Linked DNA regions of Homo sapiens. The protein of the gene in region 1 purifies or fractionates together with the protein of each later gene. This does not show direct contact. Each region holds a gene or a part of one and is shown in the gene's direction. Other genes may lie near its edges.

Region 1 (3,816 bases):
TGTGCTGTGATTGGAAATCAGTTTTGGGGGACCACACTGATCATTCAGTAATTTGGAAGTGTTGACCTTCTTAGTGAAATGTCTTTTTTTTCATATCTTGCAAATAACCCCTTTTGTGTCCCCAAGGAAAGGTCATTCTTTAGAATTAAGCCATTACGGTTGCTATTTGCTTGTTTCTTTCCTTTGTCAGAGTCCCTGCTCTTGTGTTGTGTTGTTCGAATGGAGTCAAGAGAGAGCTCTGGGATTTTGAGGACCAGGGCTGGGTTAATGAGCACTTATGCCCTGGTTTATTTTAATCACTGAAGAGTTTGTTATGCCCCCTGATTAAACAGAGAAGCTAAGGATGGCGAAATATTCTTCTTGTGCTTCCAAATAGCTCTTTGAGACCTTGACCCTCTTTTGCAATTTGAGGTAGTTGTTGAAGCAGTTTTGTGATTGGTCCCTTGGCTGGGCTGTCATCCCCCCACCTCCCGCTGGACTTGCGATGCCTCCACAGCAATTACATCTTAAACAGTGTGTGTGCCGAGGATTTTAGGGAGCCTGATGACCTCTAGAAGAAATAGTGGTTTTCAGAAGGTGGAGAAGTTTACAGTGACTCATCATTCCTTCTTGCTATCATTATTCTGTGATAGCAGCATTTAGTGAGCAGCTACAGTTGGGCACAGTGGGGGAACATAAAGAGGAAAGACTCCATTCCTGCCACATGCCTGCGGGGCAGAGGGAAACCTACCTTAATAAAAGACATCCCTTGCTTCTGTCAGCAAATATCCATCGAATAGTGGGAGGAAAGGAAGACCAATAGGTAGCAGGTATACACAATGTCAAAATTTGCTCAAATGGTACACCCTAAATGTGTTTAAGTTTATTGTGTTTCAGTTATACCTCAACAGACTTGGCGAAAAAGAAAGAAATATTTTTAGGCATCTGTCTTCTGGGTGCTTGGCTTGTTGGGCTAAGCTTGATCTTATTTCATCACCAGAGGTATCTGTAAAGTAGGTCCTATTATTTTCCCTTGATTATGGAGGAAAAAAAGTTCAGTGATTTTAGGTGCCTTGTCTAAGACAACCTAGCTAGTTAGTAGCAGATTGGTCTGAGTAATACATTGATCAGTAATTAATATATAATTATAATCAGTAATTATAGCAATTACTGATAATATAATTATATAGAGATAATATAATTATATTCAGAGCCTCCTCCGGCAGCAAGGGTGCGGGTGGTGTGAGTGTGAGACCGGGCTACATTACGGTCTAAGCGGAGTGCTCTTGGTGGGGGTGAGTCCACCTCTGAAAAGGTTTTGTTGAGGGAGCTGATTCAAACAGGGTCTTGGAAAAGGACTTGCTTTGACAAATAGAGCTTATGGGAAAAGACAAGGCACTGTATTAGTTTTTATTTAAATAATTTAATCAGTTTTTAAATTGGAAAACTAACCAATGCATGTAGTAAAAATTCACATGGCACTAAAAGAAACACAATGAATAGGAAGACTCTCTCCTACTCACACCGCTGATCTCTATGGCACTCCCTCCCAGGCCCAACTACAGTGATGGCTTCTCAGGTGTCCTTTGGGAAGCATTCTGTGCCCATTCTAGTGTGTGCCCATGTCACATTCACATACTTTTTAAAAAGCACCATAATTTGGCAGGGCGCGATGGCTCATGCCTGTAATCCCAGCACTTTGGGAGGCCACAGCGGGTGGTTCACCTGAGTTCGAGACCAGCCTGGCCAACATGGTCAAACCCCATCTCTACTAAAAAATACAAAAATAACCAGCTGTTGTGGCAGTCACCTGTAATCCCAGCTACTCAGGAGGCTGAGGCAGGAGAATCGCTTGAACCTGGGAGGCGGTGGTTGCAGTGAGCCGAGATTGCGCCACTGCACTCCAGTCTGGGTGACAGAGTGAGACTCTGTCTCCAAACAAACAAAAAAAGAGGCTGAGGTGGGAGGATTGCTTGAGCCCTGGAGGTGAAGGATGCAGTGAGCTGAGATTGCACCATTGCACTCTAGCCTGGGCAACAGAGTAAGCTTGTCTCAAAAAAAAAAAAAGAAAAGCACCATAATTTGATGACTCGATAGAGGCTTTTCCATGCCTTATTCTTTTCACTTCATCATAGATTAAATAATTTAAAAGTTAGTTTGTCTGGAATATTGAGAAACTCACGAGTTACTGAGAATCACCTACCATAGTTTTAATGAACAGAGCTACCAGTTTGTTCTTTTTTTTTTTTTTTTTTTTTTTTTTTTTTGAGACAGTTTTGCCCTTATTGCCCAGGCTGGAGTGCAATGGCGCAATCTTGGCTCACCGCAACGTCTGACTCCTGGTTCAAGCAATTCTGCTGCCTCAGCCTCTGGAGCAGCTGGGATTACAGGCATGCATCACCACCCCCAGCTAACTTTGTATTTTTAGTAGAGACGGAGTTTCCCCACGTTGGTCAGGCTGGTCTTGAACTTCTGACCTCAGGTGATCCACCTGCCTTGGCCTCCCAAAGTGCTGGGATTACAGGCGTGAGCCACCGCACCTGGCCCCAGTTTGTTTTTTCATTCCCACAGTTTTTGAGTGGCCACCATTTGATTAAGCCCCATTATCCTCCTTTGAGAAACCCACCTATTGCTCTTTTCTGAAAGCAGTGAATAAAGTATTTATTTATTTATTTATTTATTTATTTTCCTTTTTTTTGGAGATATGGTCTGGCTCTGTCACCCAGGCTGGAGTGCAGTGGCGTGATCTTGGCTCACTGCAGCCTCGACCTCCCGGGGGCTCCAGCCGTCTTTCCACCTCAGCCTACCGGGTAGCTGAGACTACAGGCGCTCGCCATCACACCTGGCTAATTTCTGTATTTTTTGTGGAGACAGGGTTTCACCATGTTGCCCAGGCTGGTTTCAAACTCCTGGGCTCAAGAGATCCACTTGCCGCAGCCTCCCAAAGTGCTAGGATTACAAGCCTGAACTACCTCACCTGGCCAAATAAAGTATTTATTGATTGCCACCTTTTGGTTTGGGATACATTGGTGAACAAAACAATAAAAATCCCTGCCTCTGTGGAACTTACATTCTTCTGGGAATGAAAGAGCCCTTTCGAGTTTATGAGATGTGTCACGTTTCATGTCGTTTTCAGGAAAGCCTATTTAGCTTAGCATTGGATCCCATTTAGCAGGGAAGAACCAGAGGCTGAAAGAGCTGCTCGCCCAAGTCACAGTGGTGAGGAATCACCTGGGTTCCAACCCCTGGCCTCGAAGTCCAGATTCTGGGTTCTTTCTGGTGTGCTGTGCCGTTCCTGGGAGCCAGGGAGCTGCCTTGTGCTTCTTCGTCTTTCTAACACTGAGCCTAGGGATTCCCACATAGAAGAGGCTCCATGACATGGGGTGGGGTAAGTGGGTTTTGATGCCCGGGAGCAGGCAGACCCTGGCAGCCCCTTTCCAGGCTCTGGCTTTACAGGCAGCAGAGTGATGGCAGGTTGGTTTGATGGTGTTAAGGCCAGAGTTGTCACCATCCCCGTCATGCCACAGTCCTTCCACTGCTGATAAGGAAGGAAATGCCCCGGATGGGCCGCAGATGACTGCTTGATCTGGAGAGGAATCATCTATGATAATATGAATAATGATGAGCTGGGAGAGTGGGAGAAGCATCACCCCCTCCCTGCCGCAGTCACTGGGAGAACATCTCCCTGGCAAGGTGCTGAGCAAAGCCCCTCCTACACCAGGCTGGGCTCCCTCCGCCCTGATCGGGTTCTGTGCGTGCCCTCCATGGTTTCCAAGGCCCTTGTTGGATGCAGTCTCCTTCCATCCTCAGCAGAGCCTTGTGAATAAATTGTGATCT
Region 2 (3,816 bases), on another chromosome or scaffold:
GTGGGCGGATCACAAGGTCAGGAGATCCAGACCATCCTGGATAACACATCTCTACTAAAAACACACAAAAAAATTAGCTGGGCATGGGGGTGGGCGCCTGTAGTCCCAGCCACTTGGGAGGCTGAGACAAGAGAATGGCGTGAACCTGGGAGGCAGAGCTTGCAGTGAGCCGAGATTGCGCCACTGCACTCCAGCATGGGCAACAGAGCGAGACTGCATCTCAAAAAAAAGATGAAGGTAAAATAAGGTCATGTGGGTAGGCCCTAATCAATGTGATGGGTGACTCAGATACGCACAGGGGAAGCTGGTGTGTATACAGAGATAGAAGCAGTCGTCTGCATACCGAGAAGACCCTCAAAAGGAGCCAGCCCTGCTGACGCCTTGATCTTGGATCTCCAGCATCCAATGCTGCGAGACAATAGTGTCTGTTGTTGCAGCCGCCTGGTCTGTGGTGCTTAGTTACGGCAGCCCCAGGAAACTAGCACGCTGAGGAGAGCCAGCCAGCTCTGTATGCGTTTCAGGGCTGCCTCCTGCAGGCTGCTGAAGAGACTCAACCCACCCCGAGTGCTCCCATCTCTGGAAAGGAAGCTTGATGGCTGGCCTGCGGGTGCTGGTCAGTGCCACCCAGCCCCTTGGGTGGAGAGGAGGAGGGTTGACATGGGCCCCTCTTGCTTTCACTCAGAACCCGTGTGTTGCTGCCAGGACCTGTCCTGCGGGTCCTGCCATTCCAGTTGGCCTCGGGATTTCTCTGGACTATTTTCCGAAGCCCTAAGCCAAAGACGAAATGTGCCACCTCTGGGTGACTGAGCAAATGTGCGCTGTGTTTTCCTGACTTCATGGGAGGGTGTGAGACACTTCTGGTGGCTGCTTCTGCTCTGCCTGTGGGGTGTCCAGCCAGGGGAAGGGCACGCTGCAGGCTGGGAGCACAGACACTTCTATGGAGCCCCTGACAGCACCTCTGCAGCACTTTGGGAGGCCTCGTACAGGTACCCAGCTAGGCTGGGCTGGACTCCTCACCTGTGGACTGGAGTAAAAAGTAGGGTGCTTTAGGCCACTATGTTTTTTTTTTTTATTATTATTATTATTATTTTAGAGACAGGATCTTGCTCTGTTGCCCAGGCTGGAGTACAGTGGTATGATCATAGCTTACTGCAGCCTCAAACTCGCCGGCTCAAGCGATCCTCCCACTTCAGCATGCCTAAGTAACTGGGACTACAACACCATGCCCGGCTAATTTTTTTTTTTTTGGTAGAGACAAGTTCTCACTATGTTGTCCAGGGTGGTCTCGAACTCCTGGGCCCAAGTGATCCTCCTGCCTCAGCCTCCCAAAATGCTGGGATTACATGCGTGAGCCACCATGCCCGGCCTCGGCCACTGTATTTGGTAATTTGATACCCATCACGGAAAACCAAGACCCTGCAGCAAGATAACACAATCACTTCATGATGTCACCCTATCTCTTTCAAAACTGCCTGTTTACAGCCGGGTGCGGTGGCTCACGCCTGTAATCCCAGCACTTTGGGAGGCTGAGGTGGGTGGATCACTTGAGGTCAGGAGTTCGAGACCAGCCTGGCCAACATGGTGAAACCCCATCTCTACTAAAAATACAAAAATTAGCCTGGCATGGTGGCGCACACCTGTAATCCCAGCTATTAGGGAGGCTAAGGCAGGAGAATTGCTTGAGCCTGGGAGGCAGAGGTTACAGGGAACTGAGATAGCGCCACTGCACTCCAGCCTGGATGACAGAGTGAGACTCCATCTTAAAAAAAAGAAAAAACGAAAAAAAACCTGCCTGTTTACAGCCCCACGTGATGCCACTTGCTGGCTTCAGCCTAGAGTGGCTGCAGGACAAGCTGTTACTCCATGGGACAGCTTCCATGGGGTCACCACTGAGGGTTTGATCACTGGATCTCAGGCCAGAGTACCTCCTATCTGTCACCAAACTGTCCCCCAGACAGTGCACACACTCACCCCCCGGCAGAACACACTCACCCCCCGAGATGATGCACATACCCCCCGGACAGTACACGCACTCACCCTGCCTAGCAGCGTGGGTGTCAGGTGGTGATGGATAATTAGTGGTTTCAGTTATTGGAACAAAATAAAGCCGAGGTGACTTGCCATCCTCAGGGACCTCACCGTGGTGGGTGCATCCCTGTCTCTCTGGACGTGGGGCGCAGATAGGCTTCTACCCATGTGCAGCCCCACCAGTGATGACTGAGAGAGCTACTTCCTCCTCCCTTTGGGGCTTGATCTGGGTGCTCAGCATGCTGGCTTGTCCCTGAATTATGTATTCAATGAAATCCCTGGCAAACCACCAGCAATTCAGCTAAACATGACTGCTGGAACAAAAATAACCTGGCAATTAATGTTCCTGAGTTATTAGGCAAACATATATAATTGCTCCTTGTTTAAAAACAGACAGCTGAACATCTTAGGACAAAAGTCCATGCTCAGTCAGCTTTTCTTCCTACTTTTCTCCCCTTTATTTTCCCTTTGTAAGAGCATTATGTCAGAATCAGCACCCGAAGCCAACAGCCCCAGCCTGGTTTGGGGCTGGACTGGGATGAGGTGTCCCTGGCTCCCCCGACCCCTGTTCACCTGCAGGGCTGTGGGACGTGGAAGCAGAGGAGGAAGGTATTTAAGAGAGAATGCTGAGCAGAACCACATGGAGCTTGACCCCACCCATAGGGTGGAGGAGCTGTCATCCCAGACCCTGGCACATCCCCACCATAGCACTCAGGGACTGCGGTGTTCCCCCTTCTCCTGCCCGCTGGCCAGGACACAACCAATGGGCACCTACAGGACTGGCCCATCCAGGTCTGGGGCAAGTGCACTGCCTTCTACTAGCACTGTCCAGCCCAGGGAAGGTGGGCTCTCCTGCCATCCCTGCTGCAGAGGTTGGGGGGCACTTCTGCCCAGAAGGGACATGGAGACTTGGGCTGGGTCTGGGTTGAAACATGGCAGTTAGAGGTACAAAGGCTGAGGCTCATCAGGGACAGAGACCACCTCCCCCTACCCCAGGCAGCACATCCCTGAGACCTGGTGCAGCCCTGGGGCCAGCTGGGTGTCAGACCAGGCTGAATGGGGCACCCTGGAGGTGGTAAGGCTTCCATAGCAGACCCCAAGGGCTCTAGGGCATGGCACAGTCCCTGGCAATGACCAAAAGCATTTCCCCAGTTCTGCTGGCAAGAAGCTTCAGGGGCAGGCACTGAGTGGGGGGCACACATGTGCACACAGGTGTGAATGCCTCCAAGGGCATGAATGGTGGGTGCTAGCACCATGTACTTTTTTGTTTGAAATGGAGTTTCGTTCTGTCGCCCAGGCTAGAGTGCAGTGGCACGATCTCAGCTCCCTGCAACCTCCGCCTCCCGGGTTCAAGCAATTCTCTGCCTCAACCTCTCGAGCAGCTGGGATTACAGGCGCCCGCCACCACACCCGGCTAATTTTTTTTTTTTTTTTTTGAGACGGAGTCTTGCTCTGTCACTCAGGCTGGAGTACAGTAGCATGATCTCGGCTCACTGCAAACTCTGCCTCCCGGGTTCACACCATTGTCCTGCCTCAGCCTCCCGAGTAGCTGGGACTACAGGCGCCCGCCACCACACCTGGCTAATTTTTTGTATTTTTAGTAGAGACGGGGTTTTACCGTGTTAGCCAGGATGGTCTCGATCTCTTGACCTCGTGATCCTCCCACCTTGGCCTCTCAAAGTGCTGGGATTACAGGCGTGAGCCACCGGGCCCGGCCTAATTTTTGTATTTTTAATAGAGATGGGGTTTCACCATCTTGGCCAGGCTGGTCTTGAACTCCTGACCTCA

What was found.
Region 2: the proteins of QDPR (region 1) and TANGO2 fractionate together in Homo sapiens (co-fractionation; one large-scale study listed by BioGRID). This does not show direct contact.

The regions. Positions count from the first base shown.
Region 1 is NC_000004.12:17,494,873-17,498,688, reverse strand, and holds part of QDPR (dihydropteridine reductase), read left to right. Parts: intron 1-3,816. UniProt on the Homo sapiens protein: Catalyzes the conversion of quinonoid dihydrobiopterin into tetrahydrobiopterin.
Region 2 is NC_000022.11:20,037,867-20,041,682, forward strand, and holds part of TANGO2 (transport and Golgi organization protein 2 homolog), read left to right. Parts: intron 1-3,816. UniProt on the Homo sapiens protein: May be involved in lipid homeostasis.